Linked DNA regions of Homo sapiens. The protein of the gene in region 1 purifies or fractionates together with the protein of each later gene. This does not show direct contact. Each region holds a gene or a part of one and is shown on either strand. Other genes may lie near its edges. The genes, in order: PGBD1, MYCBP2, ZKSCAN8 and ZNF174.

Region 1 (7,032 bases):
CAGGCTGGAGTGCAGTGGTACGATCATAGCATCATTGCAGCCTTGAACTGCAATGGTGGAAGGCTCAAGCAATCCTCCCACCTCAGGCTCCTGAGTAGATGGGACTACAGGTGCATGCCACCATGCCTGGCTAATTTATTTTTAATTTTTTGTAGCGGGGGTGGGGTCTCACTATATTGCCCAGGCTGATCTTGAACTCCTGGCCTCAAGTGATCATGCTGCCTTGGCCTCCCAAAGTGTTGGGATTACAGGCATGAGCCACTGCACCTGGCTATTCGGTGTGTATTTCTGAAGAGTGAGGATATTCTCTTGTATCACAAGAATACAAAAATCAAGTTTAGGGAAATTAAACTTACGATACTATCATATAACCTTAGTCCTTATTCATATTTTGCCATGTTATCCTAATAATGTTCTTTATGATAATTTTCCTGTGATTCAGGATACAAGCCAGCATCACATATTGCACTTAGTTGCCATATCTCTAGTCTGTGAATCTGGAGTAGCTGCTGTCTTTGTCATGACGTTGTTATTTTTGAAGAGTACAGCTAGTTTTTTTGGAGACTATCCCTCAATTTGAGTTTGTCCTATATTTTCTCATGATTCAGGCTGCACATTTTGGCTAGAATACCACAGAGGTAATGTTGTGTTCTCAGTGCGTTACTTCAGGAGGTGCGTAGTGATGATTTGTCCCATTACTGATGAGGTTATGGTGGTACCTGTCAATTTTCTCCACTAGAAAGTTACCATTTTCCCCTTTGTAATTACTAAGTAATCTGTGGGAGACATTTTGAGGTGGTGTACATATCCTGTTCCTCATTAAATTTTCACCAGCTAGTTTAAACATCCACTTGTTTGTTGTTTTTGTTTTTCTGGGCTGGGATCCTTTGCCTGTCTTTTCTGCCTTGTTTGCTGCTGTATCCCCAGCATGTAGAACAGTGCCAGGCTCTTAGCATGCAGTCCATATATGCATGCCCTTTCAAAATAAATCTTTTGTTTCCAGGCCTCTGTCTATATTCAGGGACAGGACATGCACCCAATGGTGGCAGAATATCAAGGAGTCTCTTTGGAGTGTCAGAGCCTCCAGCTCCTGCCTGGGATAACCACCCTGAAGTGTGAACCTCCACAGCGTCCTCAAGGGAACCCCCAAGAAGTGAGTGGTGAGTGCTCGAGTGAGTTTAGTGAGGACGCTGGGAGCTGGCCACTGACACTTGCACAGCCTTCTTGACCTCAAGTTTGTATACATTGTGAAATGATTACCACAAGCTAACTTACATATCTCACAGTTACCTTTTATGTGTCTGTGGTAAGAATTCCTAAGATCTACTCTCATGAAATTTCAAGTATACAATATATTATTATTACTAACTATAGTCAGCATTCTGTACGTAGGTCTTCAGAGCTTATTCATCTTATAACTGCAAGTTTATACCCTGTGACCAACATCAAGTTTTATTTTTTTGTCTAACCCTGTATCTGAACAAACTTGTAAAGACCTGCTTTATTTTACACTGTGCATTTTAAGCTGGTTTATTTAGTATGTATGTGTTGTGGACAAGTACATATAATAGTAAAAGTGAATCGGGGCAAGGCTGTTTTTTTCCAGCAAACTTTATTCCTTCTAGAAATGCAACAACAGCAATAAAAACATTCCATAGTGATCCATTATGGAAGCAAAGAAAAGCAGAGCAAAGAAAAGTGATGTTCTGTTTTATATTTTTGGGTTAGAATTACCACATGTGCTCTTCATTTGATAATTTTGTACTCTGCCATCTGCCAACTGCCAACTTTGTGACCTAGGCAAGTCATTTAATAGGTTATTCAGTTAATCAACAATTATCTGTTTGATCTCTGTGTGTACTCTGCACTCAGCTGTGATTCTTCTGAATGTGCCTAGGATTTTGGAGGCAATAATTTGGACCTTCTTGATTATTTTGAGGATTGGAAATAATCTTTTAAAGTAACAGCACAGTGGCTGGCCTTGTGCAGTCATCATCACCATTTTGATTATTGTTGGTTCTTTGGGATCAGTACCTCCTAACAGTTTTTCTAGTTCATGGCTAACATCTCTTCTCTATTTTTTTAAATATCTTTATTTTCCTGTCTCTCTCTCCATCTTCCTTTCTTCTGCTTTCCTGTTTCCCCTCAGTCTCATCTCTCTACTCTCTACATCCTTTCTTTTGCCTCTGTGTTCTCTCCTTGATCCTTCCTTTATCACCAGCTTCTTCCTCCCCTTTATTTTTGTCTATGATTTTTATTTTTTCTTTATGTGAAAGTGCATGACTGTAAAGCACCTTATGAGTTCATAAATCCCACTCCATTTTTTGGGTGAGAGACCCTAAAGTTGTAGAATTTTAGAATTTCTGACAGAATGAAAGCAGTTGTGATGCTCTTTCTCACACTGTAAAATCTACGTCTTAGTTCTTGAATGTTTAACAAACATAACATTTGGGGGAAAAGGCTGGGTCTCCAAAAAGGGTACCCTAAAGGCCATCATGTCTCATTTAGGACTCTTGCCCTCTCTCTCTGCAGGGCCTGTTCCCCACGGATCAGCTCATCTCCAGGAAAAAAACCCCAGAGACAAGGCTGTAGTGCCTGTGTTTAACCCAGTCAGGTCCCAGGTAAGTAGGATGCCCAAGCTTGTAGGAATATCAGTAGTGGTCTTTCTCCCTCATTCCATGTTCCTTGCCCTTCTCTTGGCTCACACTCATCATCGTGAGAGCCATTCAGGTGGCATAGTCCCTCTGCCTTCACCTTGTCACAGAATATCACAAAGTGTGTTGCATCATTCGAGGAGCTTGTATTGATTATATGCCATTGCCTCATTTCATTGTTCAGGAGGCACGTCCAAATCTCAAGGCATGGGAGTGAGGGGTGGAGTGAGGCTCCTGGTTTCAGAAAGTGCTCCACTCATTTGATGTTGAGTAACTGATATTTTCTCCTTTGAAGTCTCTGGTTTATCTCCCCAGCTTTAGAATAAGGGCCCTTTCTCACACTACTTTATATTCAGCATGTATGCAATTAATGCTTGGTGATAATAATGGAAATTCTATATATCTAAGGTAATACTTAACATCTTCTTCACAAAATGGACTCTGGTTTTTTTTCTTATTAGTGGTTCATTCATTTTCCTAGTCATTTATTTACAAAAAAAAAATAACTCTCTCATTTAAGTCCTCTTGCATACTGCTGCCACATCAGTTTCCTCAAGACACTTGCTCAGTCCTCTTCTATGGCTTCTAATTAATTTTTAATTCTATCAGACCCAGTGCCTCCTGTTATTAACAAATACTTCCTGATAAGAAGTATCTAGAAAATAAAACCTACTCATGCACATTCTGAAAATCAACATAATTCCCTTAAATGTAATTTAATGGTATAATGTAGAAACAAAAAAGTTATTTATTTTAAAAGTAGTGTTTCAAAATGCAAGTGCTTGATGTGATTATAACTAGGGAAATAACAACGTAGTCAGGTGTTTGCACTGAAATATAATTAGTAAGTTCAAATTAAGGAGGAATAAGAAGACCAGAAGCCCAAGAAAATCAAAGAGCAATGGTATAGGTGGACAGTGAAATGAAACTAGTATTGAGTCAGATAATACAAGACTAGACAGAGAAAGTGGGGCCCTTAATTGAAGTAAGGCTTAGATGTTGTAAATTGAATTATGTCCCTCCAAAAGATATATGAAAATCCTAACCCCACGTACCTGTGAATGTGACCTGATTTGGAAACAGGCTCTGTCTTAGTCCATTTTGTGTTGCTAATAACAGAATTCCTGAGACTGGGTAATTTATTTTAAAAAGAGGTTTATTTAGCTCAAAGTTCTACAACCTGGGAAGTCCAAGATCATCAGCCTATCTGGTTAGGATCTCATGCTGCTTTAGCTCATGGCAGAAAGTGGAATGATGGATAATCAAGTGTGTGCAAGGAGACCACACATTAGAGGCAGCCATCCTTTAAACAGTCTGCTCTTGGAGCTGAGCAAGAGCAAGAATAGAAAGCTTATTCAAAGAAATAACAATAGGCCGGGTGCAGTGGCTCTCAACTGTAATCCCAGAACTTTGGGAGGCCATGGCAGGAGGATTGCTTGAGGCCAGGAGTTTGAGACCAGCCTGAGCAACACAGCAAGACCCTGTATCTATTTAAAAAAAAAGAATAGGCCAGGCGTGGTGGCTCATGCCTGTAATCCCACACTTTGGGAGGCTGAGGTGGGTGGATCACGAGGTCAGGAGTTCGAGACCAGCCTGGCCTACCTGGCAAAACCCCGTCTCTACTAAAAATACAAAAAAAAGGAGCCAGGTGTGGCAGGCACCTGCAATGCCAGCTACTCGGGAGGCTGAGGCAGGAGAATCGCTTGAACCTGGGAGATGGAGGTTGCAGTGAGCCGAGATCATGCCATTACACTCCAGCCTGGGCAACAAGAGCAAGACTCCATCTCAAAAAAATTAAAATAAAATAAATTAAAAATAAATTTTAAAAATAGAGAAATAATAACAAAAATCTTCACAAAACTTGTGAAAGATATAAATGTCCAGGTACAGGAAGATCTGAGAACACTGAACAGAATCATCCCAAATAAGACTACTCCAAGGCATATAATAATCAAACTCTCAACTGTCCAGGAAAAAGAGAGGATCTGAAAAGCAGCAAGAGACAAGAAACAAATAAGGAGCTCCAACTTGTCTGGCAATAGACTTCTCAATGGCAATCATACAGGCCAGGAGAAAGTGGAATGACATTTTCAAAGTACTCCAAGAAAAAAACTGACATTCAAGAATATTGTATCCAGCAGAATTATCTTTCATATATGAAGGAGAAAGTCTTTCCCAAACAAACAAGCTGAGAGAGTACACCACCACCAGACACATCTTACAAGAAATGCTAAAGAATTCTTCAGTCTAAAAGGAAAGAAGACTAATGTGCATAAAGAAAACTTTTGAAGGCATAAAAGTCACTGATAAAATTAAGTACATGGACAAACCCAGAATACTTTATTACTGTAATAGTGACATACAGTATACTCACAACTGTGAAGCCCCAAGACATACCTATCAAAAACAATAATAGGACTGGACACAGTGGCTCATGCCTGTAAACCCAGTTCTTTGGGAGGCTGAAGTGGGAGGATCACTTGAGACAAGGAGTTTGAGACCAGCCCAGGCAACATGGTAAGATCCTGATGCTATACCTGGAGACATGAGACAGAGTGAGACCATATCTTTAAAACAAAACAAGACAAACAATAATGGCTAGCAACCTGTTAAGAGATAGGTAATATAAAGATATAAATTGAGACAACGAAAAGTCAAAATCTAGAGGAATGGAATTAAAGCATATAATTTTTTTCTGTGTGTTTCTGCCTTTGTTTCTACTCTTGTATTTGGGATCTAAGATAAGTTGTTATCTCTTTAAAATAACTTATTATATCTGAAGGTCTTCTTTGTAAGCCTCATGATAACTACAATGCAAAAACCTATAATAAATTCACTAAAAATAGCAACAAAGGAAGGCATACTATAAGAGAAAATCACTTAGCCACAGAGGTTTTTTGTTGTTGTTGTTTGAGATAGGGTCTCACTCTTTCACTCTGGCTGGAGTGCAGTGGTATCATCTCAGCTCACTGCAACCTCTGCCTCCCGAGTTCAAGTGATCCTTCCACCTCAGCCTCCCAAGTAGCTGGGACCACAGGTGTGTGCCACCATGCCTGGGTAATTTTTTGTATTTTTTGTAGACCTGGGTTTTTGCCATGTTGCCCAGGCTGGCTTGAACTTCTGGCCTCAAGCAGTCTGCCCACCTTGACCTCCCAAAGTTCTGGGATTACAGGCGTGAGACACCATGCCCGGCTGTATATAACAATTATAAATACCTATGCATGCAACACCAGAGCTCCCAGGTATATAAGGAAAACATTAATAGATCTAAAAGGAGAGTTAGACTGCAATACAATAATAGTAGGAGATTTTAACACCCCACTCTCAGTAATTGACACATCATCCAGACAGAAAGTCAACAGAGAAACGATGGAATTAAACTACATGCTAGATCTAATAAGCCTAACTGATATTTACTGAACATGTAACCCAACTGCTACAGAATGCACATTCTTTTCATCAGCACGTGGGACATAAGAATAGACCATATCTTAGGCCACAAACAAATCTGAACAAATTTTTAAAAAATATAAATCATATCAAGTATCTTTTCTAATCACAGTGGAATAAAACTAGAAAGCAATAACAAGAAAAACCTTGGAAACTACACAAACGCGTGGAAATTAAATAGCATGCTTCTGAACAACTAATTTGTCAGGGAAGAAATTAAGAAGGAAATGTAAAAATGTCTTGAAACTAATGAAAATAGAAAATGTGACATATCAAAATTTGTGGGATACTGCAAAAGCAGTACTAAGAAGGAAATTTATAGCAATAAACACCTATATCAGAAAAGTAAAAAGACATCAAATGCACAACCTAATGATACACCTCAAGGAACTAGAAAAGCAAGAACAAACCAAACTGAAATTAGTAGAAGGAAACAAATAAAGATTAGAACAGAAATAACTGAAATTGAGACCAAAAAAAAAAAAAAAAAACCCAGAAGAACAATGAAACAAGAAGTTGGATTTTTTTTAAAAGATAAACAAAATCAAGTCTTTAGCTGGACAAACAAAAAAGGAGAAGACCCAAATGAATAAAATCAGAAATGAAAAAGACATAACAGCTGAGACCTCAGAAATACAAAGAAACCATTAGAGACTTATGAACAACTATGACAATAAATTTGAAAACCTGGAAGAAATGGATAAATTCCTAGATGCATGCCAACTACCAAGATTGGACCATGAAAAAATAGAAAACCTCAGCAAACCAATAACAAGTAACGAGATAGAATCTGTAATAAAAAGTCTTCCATCAAAGAAAAGCCCAGGACCTGTTGGCTTCCCTGCTGAATTCTACCAAACATTTAAAAAGAACTAATACCAATCCTATTCAAATTCTTCAAAAAAAAAAAAAAAAATTGAAGAGGAGG
Region 2 (7,032 bases), on another chromosome or scaffold:
CTCTTTTCTAGTTCAAAGTCTTTCTTCCACCAAACACTAGCTATTCAACAGACAGGAGAGAACTAAAATACCTTGGTGGCATAGACTTCATATTGCTCTCTGGCTCTTCAAATACATTAGGACTTGCATCAGGAGTTACTGATATATACGGGGCAGGTACAGATGTTGAACGTAGATATCTCATTTCATCCTGGAATAGATTGTCATCTTGATAGCCCACAAAATTTTCATGATGATGCCTGCATTAAATCAAACCCAATAACTTAAAGCATGATGGCAATACAGATCCTCTCCATTTTTAATCTCTTTCATAACAGGAAAAGCAGCACATGTAAATCATAGTTAAAGGCAAAGCATTAAAATAATCGTAGATGTAGGTAGGTGAAAATAAAAGTCTGATAATTTTATTCATCAACATTCCAGGTACCACGAACATTTCAAATCCAAAATTGAACTCAGTTTCTTTCCTTTTGAGAACTTTTCCATCTTCCAGTGTTTTGGTGAATAAGCCCACCAACCATCCAGTTGCTTAAGCTAAAATATTTCCAGTGTTGTAGTAGGCTTAGCCCTCTATCATCATCATCTTTCAAGCCCATGATATTAGGTTTCCTCTCAGAGCCATTCTCTCTTCTCATTCCCTATCATCACTGCCTTGGTTCATGCTTATTATTTCTTGCACAGACCACTGAAATACAAGCAGTTACTTTTTTGGGTAGGAACATACATAAGATCATATTTGAAAAATATTAGATATATGAAATTTTCTGTGGTTCAGGGTGGAAGGGGTGCCCATTCCCCAGACAGCTAAAAAGAAAAAAATCTATAATTATGCTGTGTTAGCATTTTTCACGTTTTACAATTTGATTCTTTCCTTTTCAAAATGAACAAATAGTTGCTAACCTAAGTCCACTGAGTGGTGTGATTCACACTAAAGATCTATTGTATTTTGGCATACTGATGATTTCCACCTCAGTCTCAAATGTACTTAGTCTGATATTTTCATTTTTGTTGCTTATTCATTTTATTGTAATAGTAAGCACAAAATTTTAAAAACCATACAACTCTGCTACACAAAGAGGACAATTTCCAAAATGGAACTGTTGGTCGGCAAGCCATGTCAGTGGGCAATATCTAGATTACCTTCATTTGTCAGCTGATGAAAAAAATTTGGTTTTGGTATATGAAAGGCTCTTTTGGAGTGTCAGTGCATGATGTGTGAAAGTACAGGCTGCACCACTGAGGTCCAATATATGAAAACAGAATACTAACAGGTTTCTATCTCCAGTAATGCACTTTTATCTAGTCTCCACATTAGCTTCCACATTCCACAGTGATTTTTTAATTGCAAACCAGTTCATGTATTTCTCTGTTTAAAATTCTTCCACTGTTTCCTCTGCTCATGGGATAAAATGCAATCTTAACCTGGGCTACAGAGCCCGACATTACTTGGGTGAACCAATCACTTTGAACGGGCTTTCACATATTTCCTCCAGTAGCCAGTCCTTTAACAACCCGTGATTCCTGAAATGTGTAATGAGATTTCATTTGTGTCTTTACTCACCTGGGTTATTCTTCCAAGAGTCGCTTTCTTCCTGTCGCTTGCCTGACAGATTTCTATTTATCCTTTGAGACTCTACTAAAGGCTCAGACCCTCTGGGAAGCCTTTTCTGATTTCCTGGGGAAGATTCAGATACTCTCCATCTTTTATGCTCTAACAGCATCTTACATACATACTTCTATTGTAGCACTCCTCACATGGCATTTCAAATGTTTCACTAACATGTCTGACTTGACATCCGAGTATGAGTACATAGAAGCCAGGATTTTGTTATATTCATACATTCAGGGCCTAGCACAAGGCTGGTAGGTGCCCAGTTGGTATTCATTTAAATGCTAACAGAATGAATAATTTACGAAATAAAAGACTGCTAAGGAAACACACTTTCTTTACACTTCAGCATTTCGCACTAACAGAGTGAAGTCAGCCTACCAAAGAGTAAAAGATAGCTATAGTCTTATTTTCTAAGACATGTTGTGTATTAATACAATGCAAATTGATGAAGCATTTTTATAGTTTTTTAAATACCTATTACCATAAAGTCATTATGTCAGTCAAGGCAACTCAAAAAATAAATGCCTGGAAGTTTGTTTATAGTACACAATAGCTAATAAAGTGTAGGTCAAATACCGAACTACCCTAGATATCAATAAACAATCGCTGTTAATCCAAAGGTGATTAAAAAACAACAGCAAAATTTTATTACCTAGCTAATGTCTGCAGGTAGAGACAAGGCATTTTCACAGGAAGATCCTCAGAAATGCCTTCTTTTACACTGGGCAACTGAGATTGGAATGGCTTTGCAGGATGGTAACACAGAATGCTCGGTTCTGCTGCACTGCTCAGGGACAGCAGGAAGAGTGCATTGGCTTTAATCACCTGGTGAGCTTCCATGGTGGGCAAGGCACGAGGGGTCTTGACTTGCATTGGTTTTCTCCTAGATTGTTTGACCTGGCGAAGAAAAAAATCAAACTAATCTTTTCTGACTTACATTAAAATCCTTAGTTTCTTAAGCTAAGTATTTTGAGTTTCCAATAAAAATTATTAAACACTTGTAAAGCTATTTTAAGATAATAAGATTATAAAAAACAACATTCATTTCATATTCATCCTGGGCTGACCAAGACAATTTTGTATCAAACACAAACTATACTTCCTTTCCTTCTTCAGAAAAATTTAACACCTAACTAGTTAAATCTAAATGTAATTCATTTTTTTAAAAAGTAAATCATTTCAGTGCGTGTATTCAGTGAAATTTTTTAGTTAGGTGCCACTAGAGTGAATAAAGAAAAGAGAGAGTAGATATGGAATAGGAAAACAAAGGAGCCAAAAAAAGAGGAAAAGAGAAAGAAGGTGAAAAGGAAAGCTCTCCATAGAGAGAATAACAGACAATTAATAATAAAGAGTTACACAACAAATATTTGTCAATAAGGCATATGTAGCAGAGGTTATCTAGTGTTATTCCAATATATAGTTAATTTTTAAAATTAAAAGCATTTGACTTAGTACAAATATTAAATTTGTATATGATTTCCATTATAAAAGCTGATCTTTTAATATCAACTATGTGGAATTATCTGATGTAGTAAGATTATAACAAGGTATTTTTATACAGTGTATCCATATCATTAAAAGTATAGCTCCAAATGGAATAAAATACCTTCTCCCTTGCAGCAGCCTGTTTTTCGCGGAGGTATTTTTCTCTACAGCGATCACATACCAGATACCAAGTGCTTCCTCCTATGCCACCATCACCACAGTTACCAGCCCATCCTCCACAAAAATGCCCAATGCTATTGTAACCTTGTCCACCAGCATATCGGCCACAACCTTGAAACAATACCAAAAATAAATATTTAACACTCCAAGTGTCCTTAATAGTTTGATCCTTATTACTCATACATTAATGACAGATTTACCTTCTCAAAGAAAGCAAAATACTGAAGTAGATATCTTATTTTTCAGGCTATTAACTATATCAGAAAAATAGCTTACTTGATCAAAAAGCAATCAATTAAATGATGCCCCAAATATGAGAGATACTTAGTTTCTAATCAGGCATATTAAAAGAGAGATAGAATATAGGTATATTTAGATATACTTAATTATGTCAATAAAATTAGACAATACAAGTATAAAAGTTCTATAACAATGATATATTTTCAGAAATCACATATTCATAAGACATTTGAGGTATAATATGTAGACAAAGAAAAAAATTAACCAAATTTGTATTAGGTGAATTTGGAATATTAGTCAATGTTACAGAAATCATTACATTTACTGAAAATGCAGTCTTCTGATAAAACAATATCACTTCCGTAGGAAAAAGCCTATAGAAATCAATCTAATCTAATTTAATTTGCAATTCTGAACAGGAAAATAGTAAAATCAAAGGAGATGCCCTGTGTGTATGGGCATGCCACTGTTTCTGCTGTGTGAGACAGACACATTAATGGCACACCCTTTGGGTAACACATAATATTTTTTAAAACATGCTACATGAAAGTGAAATAGCACTAAATGACCTGGCCATCATAATATTAGAATTTATCTGTTTTTCACAAAACCCTGTACTGATAATGTACTTTAAAAATGACATTCTAAGATACTATAAATTCCCTATCCTTTGACAAAATTCATAGAACAGCTCAAATAAAGTGATCTGGTTCATTAAAGAAAAAAGCACTTATACGTACATTCAACAGTATCATTTACCTGGGTGAGCTTGTCTCATGTGATAGGTCACCGGGTATGGATGTGACTCCCCACACAGTTCACAGATGGTATCTTTCTCTGGTCCTCCTACTGCCAGCTGGGCCATCTCTCCAAACAAATTACCCCTGGGCCTAACTTCTGCCTTTTCTTTTTTCTTTTTTTCCTTTTTGGACTTCTTATTCTCTTTCTCACACTCTTTCTTTTTAAGAACTGCACAGGAACCAGGACTTGGAAAAATCATATTCTGGGAAGCAGCTTTGATAGTAGCCAAAGAGATGTCTTCCCAAAAAGCCACTAAATGTTGTAAAGTTAAGGGAAGAGGAGACTTAGACTTCATTGTGTTATGCATGGACATTTCAAAAGTGGTCTCGGTTTTCCCATCCTCACATTTTTCATGCAGAGGTGGTTCCTTAAGCATAGACAATACCTTGTTTTTGTTGATGCTACCCATCTTAGATATATCTGGTCCATGGGGTGCAATATTAAACATATTCAGTGCAGATGATATTTCTAATGAATGTCTATTTTTTAACTTGGTTTCTTTTTCCTCTGTAGGTTGTTGGCTATTTAAACTACTCCTTATAGGAGCATGTTCTTTGGAAAGTTCAGGATGAAACTTTAGGAAAGAAGAACAAGCCATTGCATCATGTACTATGCCTTCATGCCAGAGGAAGGAAGCAAACACAGCTCTGGCACATTCGGCCACAGAAGGAGACATGGCTTGCTTGGCTGGCTCTAAAGGCTTGGATCCATCTCCTTTGAAAAGAAAACTCGATTTTTCTTTTTTGGGCCTGGTGTGTCTATTAGCACATTTTCGACTTATTTTGGGAGATGCTCTCATTTCCTGTTCATCTTTCAGTGGTGCTTTTCCAATGCTAAAATGAACTTTATTTGAACCTTCATCCACACTCTTAAATTCACTGCTGTCATCGCAGGTGCTGTCTGTTAGACTATTTGTTTTTAAAGTACTTGAGGTGCAGACTTCGACCACCTCACTGTGGAGGTTTTCCTGTACCACATGGGGAGAGGGAGCTCTATTTTCAGATCCAGGGGAATCTGTAGAATCCTTTGGTACTGATTTTGGTTTTGGTGACGTTGACCGTCCTCTCAAAGGTTCTGTGAGGGGCATTTTCTTCTTGCGGAGGGTATCTGGATCAAGTGTGTAAGAGTCTGATTTAGAACGTTCCCGAGGAGGATCAAGCTTTGTCTTAACAGGAGCAGTACTTTTTTGAGGTAGATTTTTATCATGTGGTGAGGAGGAGCGTGGAGAACTAGCACCCGATGGGCTAGACCTATTGGCTGGGAGAGTCTTTGGCTTAGGAGATGACAACCGAGAACCTGGTCCTGGGGATTCAGCTCTGGAGCTAGAAGGCATCCTCCCATCAGATTTCAATGTCTGCAAGGTGTTATGGTTGGGGGATAATGACCTACTGTGGGAATCTGACCTCAACTTTGCAGCATCAGATTTTAAGATGAGGGATTCACTAGCAGATAAACTTTCTGTGCCCCTTGGCTTCTTCTGATCAGCAGTAGTCCGGCTCATACGTCCATCAGGTTTAAGCGATCTGCTGTGTTTAGAGGACAGCTCTGATTTTCCTGATGTAGAGGCTGGTTTAGAAGATGTTGAGATGTTTCCTCGATCACCTGTATGGTCCATTTTACAGTGAAACTTATTAATAAAATTATAACTTACTGATAATTTAGCCACTAAACACTGAAATAAAAAAACATAGCTACAAAATTTATATTGTTTGTCATACATACTAAAATACTTGAAGAATAAAGGAAAGAAGGGGGAAATATTTCTAATAAAATTTCTACACATCATTACACAACATTACCACCAAAAACTATTTTCATGGACGCAAAACAACAGGTTGAACAAATCCAGTGTGAACTATCAGTGATATCTCAACCTCTGCCCTAGTGCAATAACTAGTTAGAATTTAAATTCAGTGAGGGACTAGAAAGAGACAGAAATTAATCTTTTGGGGAATAAGAAATTATTTAATGTGAAAACTTGTATTTTAAATGTAGAGTAGAGCTAAATTTCCAGCAGAGTGATACCTCGCATCCTTAGGGCAACGGTATGGGTTTTGTTGAATTAGAGAACTGAATTTATGCATAGACACAATTATAATTTTTAAGTGTATGCATACAATTAGGCTAACAAAGAGTTGCTTAAGAGGCACTCTGTTTTATGATCAGATTAGACTAGTTTACAATGAGCACATGAATGCCCTGAAGCTGTTATTTAATTATTTATAAACAGGTTACACTCCAAAAGTTCAGGAAGCTTAGCTGCTTAGAACTCAGAGCCTGTGTTCCCTTGGAAACCACAGAAACGGTGGATCCTCAGAATGAGTGGTAAAAGTCTGAACTGTGGACCCTCAAAACAAGGAGTCAGGAGAATGACAGAAAAACAGGATGAAAAGAAGAATCACCTCCCTTTTCTAAGGCAAAGCATTAGATGTTTCTGCATGGACATTAATTGTTTTTAGCACCCTGCCTTCATTCAGTGTCTCTCCTTCATTCTATTTTATGCTTTTCTTTGAGGCATTAGAGCCAGGCTGTCTGTGACCCAAGTAAATGGTACAAACTTCAACATCACCTTTCCTCCTTAAAATAAAAACTTCTACTCTTAGTGCAAGTGATACCAGTTAGTTGTTAGGAGAAAAGCAATCTGACTGAAGGGTTTCAAGTGGTATAAAAAACTGAAAATCCATAAACCTATCTGGAAGTATTTATATTTTTTC
Region 3 (7,385 bases), 150 kb from region 1:
GGCTAATTTTTTGTATTTTTAGTAGAGATGGGGTTTCACTGTGTTAGCCAGGATGGTCTCGATCTCCTGACCTCGTGATCTGCCCGCCTCGGCCTCCCAAAGTGCTGGGATTACAGGCGTAAGCCACTGTGCCCGGCCTAAAATCATTCAACTCTTAACTCTAATTTATCTATTACCTTTTTCATGAGTTCTTCTCTGTCATCCCCCTGCCATTTGTCATTCCTACCAAAGCATTTTTAACATGGTCCAAATATAGGACTTATCACATTGTGAGAATGTGGCCATGGCCTTATTGCAAATGTTTGTTGACAGAGGTGACCATTATCTTTGTATTTCAAAGATACTGTAGAGAATGAAGAAGAGTGTAAGTAAAGGTAGCATACCCTAAACCAGTTGTCATGAGATGCTAACATCAAGATAAAACCAGAGACCTATAGTCCACAAAGAAGAGATAGGTACTTAGGAAAAAAATCAGATTACTGTACATACAGTTCCCCATACGGATCATCAAGGCAGTGCTTATCTTTTCAGTTTTTGGAGTTGTGGCACGGGGCGAGGGGGGTTGGTTTATAGACTCTTCAACCTAAAGAAAACACAGAACTTCTTTCCAGCAAAATGTCCACAGATACAAAATTGTATACTCAATTTCGGCAGAGTTCACAGACTCAAAGGCCATCCAAGAATGCCAGGAAGGTTAAAAACAAACAAACATACAAACAAATCCTACATAGAGAGTGTGTACAGAAAAGAAAGGGAATTTGAAAATTATTTTTCAAGTTAGACAAGGCCGGGAACAACAGGGTGGAGAGTAAACTACAGATCAGAAGAACCAAGGAGCAAAAGATATGGTTAAATATATCAATTAACATTGGGGGTATAGTTCATTGATTATGACTTTACAGGAAAGTGGAGGAATTTGCTAGAATAGTGAGATTTGGGGGAAGAGTGAATTTGAGGAAGATGCTGAGATTTTGTTGAGAAAGGGTAATCAATTTGGTTTTGACAATTTGTTTTTGTTTGAATAAATTATCTATAATTTTAAGATAATTTATTTTAAAATGGTCTTAGCTAATTTTAAAATAATTTAATTTTTCAAATCAAAACAAACTCTTAAATTTTCTTAAAATAGCTACTTATGGTTTAATGTTAAAAACTTAAAGGTCAATACATGGGACATAAATTCTGTTTAGAATGTGATGTTATATAGTGGTAGTCTTACCATGTTTTCTTATAAATTTCCTTAAAGCCAAGGTTCATTTTTAACTACTGAACAACTGGCCATCTATTACTGAGCAATCCTCATCCATAATGGCTATAAAATATTATTATTATTATTTAGGGACAGGGTCTCACTATGTTGCTCAGGCTTGAGTGCAGAGTCTATTCACAGGTGCAATCCCACTACTTACCAGTACAGGAGGCTATAAAATATTTTAATGTGAAGTGCGCAGCATTCAAGAACTTTATATTGTTGATGTGGTATTAAAAAGTCTCAATAACAACACTGATGAAAACCAGCTAATTATCAGGTTTGTTCATTTTTTATACCAAATCAGCCAACAGGTCTTGCCCATTGCTCATCTTGATTATTCTATTTAGTGGCTAATTTTCCATTTTTTTAAGTCTCTTCCCTCTCTGATCAGCTGGTTTTTGAGAATTACAACCTATAAATAACTGAGTGCAAAATTACTCCAGTATGTACCTTCCTCTCAGTTTTGTGCGTACATGTCTGTATTAAGTTGGTGAGCACTTTGTGGATACAGACTGATTTTTACATAGTCTCCTTAAAGAACACCTAGTCAAGTTTACATGAGTTTAAAAGGCAATCTTTAAAGCTTCCTCTGGATTTTAAATACTGTAATCCTGTGAGATGCTGAAGGCACAACTCAATTTTAACAGTATTATTTTTTCAATAGTTGTGGAAGGAATGTATTCTTCCTTCAGACTATGTCTAATTTGAGAAATGTTTGGGAACTGAAAACAAAACAAAAAAGACATTTTCCAGGATTTAAAATCCAAGAAAAAGTAGGTGAAGCCAATACTATGCTTTGTTATCTCAAATTGCATTAGCTGAAAGTTTTAATTAACATCTATCACATTTTACATTTAAACAACAGAAATTCAAAACATGTATGTATTTGCTAAAACAATGATTGCTACGTAAATATACTCAACGGAACTAACAAACAACAGAAATATGTTTTTAAAGGTGGTGGTGGCAGTCAAAGTAGCCTGACAAAAATTACTCATGACTAACCAGAGTTTTGGAAATGGGGCCCTCCCAGAGTTCCTCGTTGGCTAACTTCAGTTTGCTTTAACAAATGAAATAGGCATTCTGATAATGTTGAATTCTGAATTACCCTGAAATTAAAAAAAAAAAAAAACTTTCGTACAATTATCTAGTCAACACACCACCAGTTTCTGAATACACTAAAGAAAGAAGAGTAACAGCAAAAATTGGTTTCCATGGATAAACGGGGCTTCCAAAAGCAAAATATGTCTTTTTTAAAAACTGAGAATTTTGTTGTGACCTAAACGCAAAAGAGCGCTAAGTGAAAACAATTCAGACTCTGGAAATAGTTGGATAAAAAATAACATGGGGGGGGCGTTCCCCATTTTAAGATAAACAAGATCGACTACAAAAACATACCACAACACGATTATCTATGAAGAAAGCTTCATAAAAGGTTCCCTCGCAAAAAGTTCAAGGGCAATTCGTGGGGACGTACTCTGCCTGCAACAGCAACTAAGGCGTCAGAATCGGTCCGCGGCGCCGAACACCGCACAGGCCCCTCTCCGGACCCCTCAGGCCAGTCCTCAGCTGCGGCCTGGACCAGCCACAAAGCACCCACTTTCCTCCGGCCCAGAGCCCGACCGTACTCACTGTGAGTTGCAGAGGCGCCCCGTCGTGGGGAAGGGAGGCTGCAACGGATAAACAGACTCGAAGGAAGGTCGGGGAGTAAAGGCGATGAAAGCTGTACTCGGACCAGGCCCCTCCGGCCACTAACTTCTAAATCTGCGGAGGCACAACACCGGCCAGCACGCATCTTGCCCCAAAGGCACTTCCGGAAGCTCTCTAGGAGTCCTGGAGGTCTACAAGCTCTATGGTCGGCCGACTGAGGGTACCGGAGTACCACGCCCCTCACCTGCTGTGTGCTGTGCCTCGGGTTCCTCCCGCGTCTGCGTGCCTCAGGCTTGCGCTGTCGCTGGGGCAGTGAACGTGCTGGGGAATAACGGACCTTGGTGTCCCCTCCGCCTTGTGTGCCCATGCAGCTCCGCGCGCTCGCTGTCAATAGTAACGGTCCCCTGGGGGTAGATATCGGACGTGGGGAGGCTGGAGCTGTGAATAGGAGGCTGGGAAAGTGTTGGAGGAGGGAGCACTTCATGGATCCTTAGGATTCCAACTGGATTCGCGTTTGGCTCCGTTACATACCCTGTACTTTACTGTTCTCGATTCATAAACATATCCAGACCTCTCACATAGAGTACAAACTTCATGAGGAATTCCTGCTAATCACAGTTCATAGTTTTGTGAAATCCCTATGGCATGGCACTTAGGAATAGCATATTTTATTAAGTATTCAAAAAAATCGTAATTAAATATATATTCTTTTTGGATCTTTACATATTTCCCACTCTTTCCTATCTTAATGAATTTCTATCGCTTACAGCATCTGCTTTGCTGCTTAGCTGTTTTAATGCTAAACCTATGATGTAAGCTTGAAGAGTAGACCCTAGGTTTAATACCACAAGATATGGGGAACAAATCTATGTTCATTCTTTCTTTGTTAGTCTTTTTTTCTTTTTTTGCCTTTTTTTTTTTTTTTTGAGACAGGGTCTCTATTGCAGAGTGTAGTGGTGTGATCATAGCTCACGGCAGACTCAACCTTCTGGGCTCAAGCAGTCTTCCCACCTTAGCCCCCCAAGTAGCTGGGACTACAGGTGTGCACCACCCTCAGCTTAAAAAAGAAAATTTGTAGAAACGGGGTGGCGGGGCGGGGCGGGGGTCTCACTATGTTGCCCAGGCTGGTCTTGAACTCCTGGGCTCAAGTGATCCTCCTGCCTCAGTCTCCCAAAGTCCTCGGATTACAGGCATGAGACACCACCCTGGCCCTGTGTTCATTCTTTACAGACCTGTTGCATTAGAGCTTTTTAACTTTTGAGACTAATAGGATTTCAGGGGTGGAGGTTGTGGCAAGTGTTATTTTTTGTTGTTTAAGTCTCATGTATTTATTTCCTTCAGCACCTTTCCCAACCACCTATTATTGAGTTCTCAGGGCTCCTCCAATTTTCACCTTAATTTCCCTCTTTATCTGCTCCTGCTGGTAGCCACCACCAACATTTCTATCCCTTCCCAATTACTAACTCCCCAATATTTTGCGTACTGACAAAGTCGTTTTGATTTAAGGGTTTTGTCATCTAATTATCACATGAAAACAAGTAAATAATAGTAAACACTGGGAAGCTACAGTGCTTCTGGACTCCTTCAAAGTAATTATTTTTGCTTTTTATTTCACAGCTGTTGCTTTCCACCTGGGATGGTAACTGGAAGTAACTGGTGACAGACTAGAACTCTACTTTCAGTTTCTTTTTTCACATTTTAAAAGTAACTTTTTTGGCTGAGCGCGGTGGCTCATGCCTGTAATCCCAGCACTTTGTGAAGCCGCGGGAGGATCACCTGAGCTCAGGAGTTTGAGACCAGCCTGGCCAACATGGCAAAAACCCATCTCTGCAAAAAATACAAAAATTAGCCAGGCATGGTAGTGGGCTCCTGTAGTCCCAGCTACTCCAGAGGCTGAGGCGGGAGAATCGCATGAGCCTGGGAGGCAGAAGCTGCAGTGAGCTGAGATCCTGCCATTGCACTCCAGCCTGGGCAATAGAGCAAGACCCTGTCTCAACATAAATAAACAAATAAATTTTTTTTAAGTCTGAAGTTGTGCACATATGTAGTTGTACAAATTCAATGTGCACACAACTATGACTGCACATACTATGTACAAAGTTGTGTACACATAGGAAGTAAAATAGCGTCATGCCATAGGTAGTTTTCTCAAACTGGACACACAGACACTGATTGTAATAGATAAAACTGATAAATTTGACTTCAAAATTTTAAACTTAAATTCTCATCAAAATTTAAATCTTCTCAAAAAAAGCACCATTAAGAAAGTGAAGAAAAAGCTACACACTGAAAAATATTTGTAATACATCTATCTGACAAAGAACTATCCAGAATATATAAAGAACTCTCACAATTTAATGAATAAGATAATTCAACACCAATAGGCAAAAGATTTAAACACTTTCTTTACAAAAGATAAAAGAATGGCCAGTATGCACACTAAAAAGTAACCATTATTCATCAGGGAAATGCAAAGTTAAAACCTCAATGAGTTACCACCACATATCCGTTAGAATGGTTGATAATATCGCCAATTTCTAAGTTATTCAGGCTTGAGAGGCTTCCTTAGTTTACTCAATGAAACATGGAGATAAAGGAGAAATTATCAGAGCCAGATTTCTCCTTTGAAGTGTTACTTTTCTCCATTAATATAACCACCATCCTCAGTTCTAATTACTTCACACCTATGTGACTGCAACAGCCTTGAGATAGCCTTCCTAACTATACAAGACGTGGTCCTTAAATATCATTATCATTCTTCCAATCACTGACCCTGAGTGGTTCCTTATCTCTAAGTAAAATTTAAACTTCTATGCTTGCCTTTTATTTTTTGTATTTTTAAAAATAAATGAAACATGATAAAGATTAATATTATATAAAATTCTTAAAAGCTGACATCTCCACCCTCAAATAGTATTTACCTAGAATGTTGGGAGATAATTCTTTAATGGCTTCTCAAATTACTCCTAGTCTTATGGTAGATTTTTCTTTGAGGTTAGGTTTTCAAGGATGTTTGTATCTCCTTCTAGATCACAGTTGTTTCCTGACCAGGATAATAAAGATAATGGCTCATTCTGGGGCAAGGCTGAGCAAAGGTTGGGCTTCCTAAGCTTGGCATTCCTCTGCTAGGTTGCAAACCCACTGTTCCATCCTAGCAGGGGAATGCCAAGCTTAGGCCCCTCTGTGGGCTTTGGGAACATAAGCTTTGGGAACAAGGGAATATAAAGCTTATGATGCCTGTGTTATTAAGTAATAAAGTCTTCTGTCTCTGACGCAGGAGTCCAGTGTCTTCTGTTAGTATCCATAAAACTGTGGCAAGTTAAATTGTTAGCTTGCAAGTAGGGTAAAAGTTTCACAATTTTCAATATGGGGTAATCACTGTTAAGTTTGGAGTGCATCCTTTTCTTGTACAAATACCCCACAAATTATATCTATATAAACAAATTTTTTCAACAAAAATGGAATATATATTGTTCTGACACTCCTTTTGTCATTTGAACGGTTGAAAGGTATTCCTCAATAGCATATGTCATATGTAATTCTTCCGCCATTGATTTACATTGATAAACAAGTGTTTTCCTTTTTTTCTACCACTAGCGTCCTGTCTGCCTTTTATTGCCTTCCAGAATGACCTTCTCCCTATCCCATACCCCTGGTCATAATTCCCCTGTACCCCCAAGTCAAAGGACTTATCTCATTGCTCACTACTCAATCTAAACACTCGTCTATTATTCTAATAACCCCCTCTCAAGACTTTATTATTCGATTTTGCACTGATCACATTCTGTCTTATATTACTTGCTATGTTGCATTTGCTGTCAATAGATTAAAGCTTCCATAGTTGAGGTGTCGGTTCTGAGATCTCCTTCCCAGTTGCAGTAAGTGGCAGCCCTTGAAATATGCAGATGTGCCATACATTTCTGACAGGAAGAGTGGTTTGCCTTTTTTTGTCAAGTAGCTAATCAATCTGATTCATCCTCTCCCTGCAATTCTAGTCTTATTCAATAATTCCTTCTGCTTAGGTAGGTCCTCATTCACCCATGTACTTATCAAGCACCCACCATGTGACAGATGCCAAGTGAGGTGAAAGTGCTGGGATGAGCACCTCTGTGGATCTCACAATGACCATCCATCTTTTGCATCCTTCTTGGTTTTTCCTTTACCCAAGTCCTGCACTTCACTCTTTACCCGTGCTTCAGAAAAGCGGAAGTTGGTTAATTAATTCCATTTGTCTAACACGGATGAGAGTGACAGCAGACAAGGGGAAAGGCAGGGAAATTCCCTTAGACTGTTCTTACATGCACTCTCACACTTAATAGTCAAAGCCACCCTATGAAATAGACACTACGTTATTAGCCTGAGTTACATAAACGAGTAAACAGAGGCTTGGAGAAGTTAAAAATAAATTGCCCTCAGTCCTAACTGGAGAGTGGTGGAGTCAGAATTTGAATCCAGGTTTAAAGAATTCTAGTGCCGGCACTCT
Region 4 (5,682 bases), on another chromosome or scaffold:
AAGCCACTCGGCTGATTTGTAGCATCCTCATTCCTGTCATTCTTCACGTTCTCCCCTTTACTTCCTTTGAGGGTTTCAGTGGTTTCTATGAAAGTTGACCTCTAGATGGTTATCAGCAATTCCCAAGGTAAACGGGTCATTATACAACAGTGAGAGATCAAGCTTCCCTCAGTCCTGATGGATGGAATTAATGGATGGGGCTTGTTCCTAGGTGGCCGTTTGTATGCAGGGGCAAAAGGTGCTCTTGGAGAAAACTGGATCTCAGCTTGGAGAACAGGAACTGCCAGACTTTCAACCGCAGACTCCTAGGAGAGATCTCAGGGAGAGCTCTCCAGCAGAGCCTTCCCAGGCAGGAGCTTATGACCGGCTGAGCCCCCATCATTGGGAGAAATCCCCACTCCTCCAAGAACCAACCCCCAAATTGGCTGGGACAGGTAAACACTCTGCCTTTTCTCTCCCTCTCATCAGCCCTTTATCTCCATCAATGTATCTCATGGTTCTGCAAAGGCATAGACCACATGTGTGTGTTTTTTTAAATGTTATATATAATAGTAGATGATTATTCACTAAACAAATTTCACTAATTAGGATGGTGGTGATACTACAAGTAAGTATGTTTTTATCGTTTTCTGTTAATGAAAATTTAAGAATCCAGTGCATGACAGGGTTGTACCTACTTTTCTGTCCGTTTCAGAACTTCTTATAGAAAAGACAGATCCAAATATGGCCACAGATGAACTTCCATGCAAGCTATGGCTGAGTTTCATTGCTTAAAATGCTCCTCTGTTTAGAGGGGCCTGGTAGAAATAAAAACCCACCCTATATCTTATATCTTTGTCCTCCTCTGTGATGTTGCTTGTACTTTAGATCCTCAAATCTATTTCCCTTTCTCTGGTGTGATACTTGTGTAACTGCTGGCCTTGTTCTACACAGTCCTGTGATCTCTAAGCCTGAATGACAGTGACATTTTGGCCAAGCCTGGTGATGTGAATACAAGATACAGTGAGCACGTTAGGGAGGAGGGTTACAAGACGACAAAAATCCTCAGTTTCTTAATATTTGCTACATCCAATGAGGTACTTCGTGTTTTAGTCTGTTCAGGCTGCTAATATAAAATGCTAGAGACTAGGTAGTTTATAAACAACAGGAGTTTATTTCTCACAGTTCTAGAGGCTAGGAAGTCTGAGTTCAAGGTGCCAGCATGGTTGGGTTCCAGTGAGGCCCCTCTTCCAGGTCACAGACTGCCTACTTCTCAGTCCTCATGTGGCAGAAGGGGAAGACAGGCTCCCGTGGGGCTCTTTCATGAAGGCACTAATCCCATTCCAGTGAGGGCAGCACCCTCATGACCTAATCACCTCCCAAAGGCCCCATGTCCTAACACTATTACCTTGGGAGTTAGAATTTCATATGAATTTGGAGGAACATAAACATTTAGCCCCTGGCAACCACAGTCTACTTTTTGTCTCTAGAATTGCTTATTCTGAACATTTTATACAAATGGAATCACACAGGCCGGGCACAGTGGCTCACGCCTGTAATCCCAGCACTTTGGGAGGCCAAGGCAGGCGGATCACTTAGGCTCAGGAGTTCGAGACCAGCCTGGGCAACATGGCGAAATCCTGTCTCTACAAAAAATGCAAAAATTAGCGGGGCATGGTGCTGCACACCTGTAATCCCAGCTGCTTGGGGGAGCTGAGGCAGGAGGATCACTTCAACCTGGGAGGTCGAGGCTGCAGTGAACTGAGATCGTGCCACTGCACTCTAGCCTATGTGACAAAGTAAGACCCTGTCTCAAAAATAAATAAATAAATAAATTGAATCACACAATATGTGGTCTTTTGTGTGTGGCTTCTTTCACTGAGCATGTTTTCAAGTTTTATCCATGCTGTAGCATCAATCAGTGCTTCATTCCTTTTCTGTGGCTGAATAATAGGCATTGTACGGATATATTACATGTTGGTTTTCTGTTCATGTTGGTTCATCTGTTCATAGATTTTTGGGTTGTTTCTACTTTTTGGTTATTATGAAGAATGCTGCTATAAATGTGTGTTTTTGTGTAGACATGTTTTCATTTCTCTTGAGTATATACCTAGGAGTGGAATTACCATATGCTAGGTCATGTGGTAATTCCATGTTTAACTTATGAGGAACTACCAGACTGTTTTCCAAAGCAGCTACACCATTTTACATCCCCACCAATACTGTGTGAGGATTCCGATTTCTCCACATTCTTGCTAGCACTTGTTATTGTCTTATACCCATCCTATTCGGTGAGAAATTTTGATTTGAGGTTTTGATTTACATTTCCCTAGTGACTAATGGTGTTGAACATCTTTTCATGTGCTTATTATCCAGTTACATATCTTGTGTGGAAAAATATCTGTTCAGATCCTTTGGTCATTTTTAAATTAGGTTATTTGTCTTTATTTTTTATAAGAGTCCTTTATGTATTCTAGATACTAGACCCTTATGTGTAATTTGCAAATCTTTTCTCTCATTTTGTGGGTTGTCTCACTTTCTTGACAGTGTCCTTTGACGCACACGTTTTTCATTTTGCTGCAGTCTAATTTATCTATTTTTTTCTTTCTTTATGCTTTGGTGTCATATGTAAAATAGCACTGCCTAATCCAAGGGCACAAATATGTACAGCTATGGTTTCTTCAAGGAGACATAGATTTAGCTCTTACTTTCAGCTATTTGGTCCATTTTAAGTTTATTTTTTCCCCATACATAAACAAGTCAATTTTTATATAGGTTTTGAGGTAGGGGTCTGTCAATCTGATCAGGGGTCTGTCTTAATCTGATCAGGCTCTTACAACAAATTGCCTTAGACTAGGTAATTTATAAACAACAGAAATTTGTTGCTCATAGTTCCTGGATACTGGGAAGTTCAAGATCAAGGTGCCAGCAGATTTGGTGTCTGGCGAGGGCCCATTCCTCATAAATGGTGCCTGCTATGAGTCCCCACATGGTAGTCTCTTGGGTTTCTTTTATAAGGACACTAATCCCATTTATGAGGACCCCACCCTCATAACCTAATCACCTCCCAGATGCCCCACCTCCCAAGACCACTGCACTGGGGACTGTCAATATATGTGTGTCAGGGGACAGGGGGGATAAACATTCAGACCATAGCAGGGTCCAACTTCATTCTCTTGTATGTGGAAATCCAGTAGTCCTAGAATCCTTTATGAAAAAGACTATTCTTTTCCCATTGAATTGTCTTGTCAAAAAGCAATTGACCCTGATTGTATAGGCTGATTATTTACATTTGAATTTAAATGAATTAAAATTAAAAAAAAATTTAAAATTAAGTTCCTTAGTCACAGTAGTCACATTTCAAGTACCCAGTAGCCACATAGTCACATGTGGCTAGTGGCTGCCATATTGAACAACGTGCATGTGCCTGTGCATGCACGTGTGCACACACACATTTTCCACATCACAAGGGATCCTTCTCCAGATCCTGTGATTTCCCATAGGCCGTTCCAGCTCATCTCCATCCAGACTGTCAATCCTTCTGTAATTAGGATACATGGCTAAGCCCTGATTCCAGTTTCTGAACTCATATACTGTCAAATTTGTAATGAAAGAAAACATCACAGTCTCTGAACTTACCATCTTTTGAAGAGAAGGTGGTTGTCAATTAGTGTTTACTAAGTGAGGGGTATTTGTTGAAATAGCTCAGGCATTGGACTACAGCAGTAAAATTTGCAATGTTGAGATTTCACCTCTCTTCCTTCTTCATTAGATACCCAATTCTGATGGGTTTGCTTTTCCCTGTTCTTCATTTCCTAAACCTTTCCCTAAAGGGAGAAAGGAAGAAGGAGGATGGAGAACTTGGTTCCTAAATTTAATATAAATCACAGTCACCCCAGGAGCCTGCTAACTGTGCAGATTATCAGGCCCAACCCCCCGAGATTCTGACCCAGCAGCTCTGGGGGAAGGGTGAAGAGCCTGCTTGTTTAACAAGTGCTCCAGATGAGTCTAATGCAAGTTGCCAGCGGAGGGCCACCCTTTGAGAAACCTCTCAGAGTATTTCATAACTCTTGCTGAAGTTATTTCTTCCAAGTGCAGAAAATGAAGCATTTTCTTTCTAATTATAGAGGCCCCCAGAATGAGAAGTGACAACAAGGAAAATCCACAACAGGAAGGGGCTAAAGGAGCAAAGCCATGTGCAGTGTCAGCTGGCAGATCCAAAGGGAATGGTCTGCAGAATCCTGAACCAAGAGGGGCAAATATGAGTGAACCTCGGTTGTCACGGAGGCAGGTCAGCTCCCCAAATGCTCAAAAGCCATTTGCTCACTACCAGAGACATTGCAGGGTGGAATACATCAGCAGCCCCCTAAAAAGCCACCCACTGAGAGAGCTAAAGAAAAGCAAAGGAGGTAAACGGAGTCTGAGCAACCGTTTGCAACATCTTGGTCACCAGCCCACCCGCTCAGCAAAGAAACCCTACAAATGTGATGACTGTGGGAAAAGCTTCACGTGGAATTCAGAGCTGAAGAGACACAAGAGAGTCCACACAGGAGAGAGACCCTACACGTGCGGAGAGTGTGGAAACTGCTTTGGGCGGCAGTCAACCCTGAAGCTGCACCAGAGGATCCACACTGGAGAGAAGCCATACCAGTGTGGCCAGTGTGGGAAAAGCTTTCGCCAGAGCTCAAACCTTCACCAGCATCACCGACTTCACCATGGGGACTAAAAGGAGCACTCCATGCTTTAGATTCACACGGAAGGTGTTTGTGTTTCTCCTCCCCCTTACTTGCATGTAAATCACAAAAACTGTGTGACTTACAAGGAAAGCACGAGGCCCTTGAGGAATGATGATGCACATTCTGCTGTGAGGAGGCCCAGAAAAGGCCAACCAGGGCCCAACCGTGCATGATGACAGGGTGAAGAGAAGGCAGGTCTGGGCACTGGGGCAAAGAGAACTTAAGTCTCTGCAGAGAGCAAGGAGTAACTACTGAGAGAGAATCAGGACAATCCTGCAGGTGGCCCGCTTACTGTTAAATCGTCCCTCTGTTGCTTTATCCTCTAAAATATGTTAAGGGATAAATTCTATATATATAGTTATGCATTTGCTGTCATACCAGACAATTTTTTATCATGAGCACACTTCTTTAATAAAGATGAGTGATCTACCAGAATTTCAAGGCAAAGTTAATTGGAAAATAGATCCCTCATATTCTTTCTGTAATTACTAGCTGTTTATAGCAAAGGATGAATTAAATGAGAATATGCACGTTTGTGCGAGAAGAGTTTCCAAGTAGTTAGATGGTGCTTTTACAAAAAGAAAAGAAAATTACATTTGAGGGATCTTTTTTGTATCAAAGCACCTTTTTTTTTTCCTTTTTATTTTTTGAGACAGGGTCTCGCTATGTTGCCCAGGCTGGTCTCGAACTCCTGGGCTCAAGCAATGCTCCTGCCTTGGCATCCCAAAGTGCTGGGATTGCAAGTGTGAACCACCGTGCCTGTTCTCAAAGCACCTTTGATTGAGAAAAAAAAAATCTACACAGTTGCTGCAACCCCAGCCTAACACATAAGGAAAAGCTACAGTGAGAAGCAAGTAGTGGACAAAGAGTACTAAGGAGATATAAAAGGGAATTCTTCCCACTCTCCTTTCTCACTTAGCCCATTAGCTTTAAGAATAACAAAATGCAATGGGGGTACAGTGGCTCA

Evidence for each region.
Region 2: the proteins of PGBD1 (region 1) and MYCBP2 purify together in Homo sapiens (affinity purification with mass spectrometry; 2 studies listed by BioGRID and IntAct, with this or other methods). This does not show direct contact.
Region 3: the proteins of PGBD1 (region 1) and ZKSCAN8 purify together in Homo sapiens (affinity purification with mass spectrometry; 2 studies listed by BioGRID and IntAct, with this or other methods). This does not show direct contact.
Region 4: the proteins of PGBD1 (region 1) and ZNF174 purify together in Homo sapiens (affinity purification with mass spectrometry; 2 studies listed by BioGRID and IntAct, with this or other methods). This does not show direct contact.

Annotation. Positions count from the first base shown.
Region 1 is NC_000006.12:28,284,548-28,291,579, forward strand, and holds part of PGBD1 (piggyBac transposable element-derived protein 1), read left to right. Parts: intron 1-1,003; coding exon 1,004-1,160; intron 1,161-2,532; coding exon 2,533-2,621; intron 2,622-7,032.
Region 2 is NC_000013.11:77,093,094-77,100,125, forward strand, and holds part of MYCBP2 (E3 ubiquitin-protein ligase MYCBP2), read right to left. Parts: intron 5,921-7,032; coding exon 4,277-5,920; intron 3,389-4,276; coding exon 3,219-3,388; intron 2,510-3,218; coding exon 2,265-2,509; intron 240-2,264; coding exon 72-239; intron 1-71. UniProt on the Homo sapiens protein: Atypical E3 ubiquitin-protein ligase which specifically mediates ubiquitination of threonine and serine residues on target proteins, instead of ubiquitinating lysine residues.
Region 3 is NC_000006.12:28,137,529-28,144,913, reverse strand, and holds the start of ZKSCAN8 (zinc finger protein with KRAB and SCAN domains 8), read right to left. Parts: upstream 3,032-7,385; 5' UTR 2,885-3,031; intron 2,704-2,884; exon of another isoform or gene 2,651-2,703; intron 584-2,650; exon of another isoform or gene 490-583; intron 1-489. UniProt on the Homo sapiens protein: May be involved in transcriptional regulation.
Region 4 is NC_000016.10:3,404,215-3,409,896, forward strand, and holds the end of ZNF174 (zinc finger protein 174), read left to right. Parts: intron 1-211; coding exon 212-434; coding exon of another isoform or gene 435-559; exon of another isoform or gene 560-694; coding exon of another isoform or gene 695-774; exon of another isoform or gene 775-1,827; intron 1,828-4,106; coding exon 4,107-4,705; 3' UTR 4,706-5,150; downstream 5,151-5,682. UniProt on the Homo sapiens protein: Transcriptional repressor.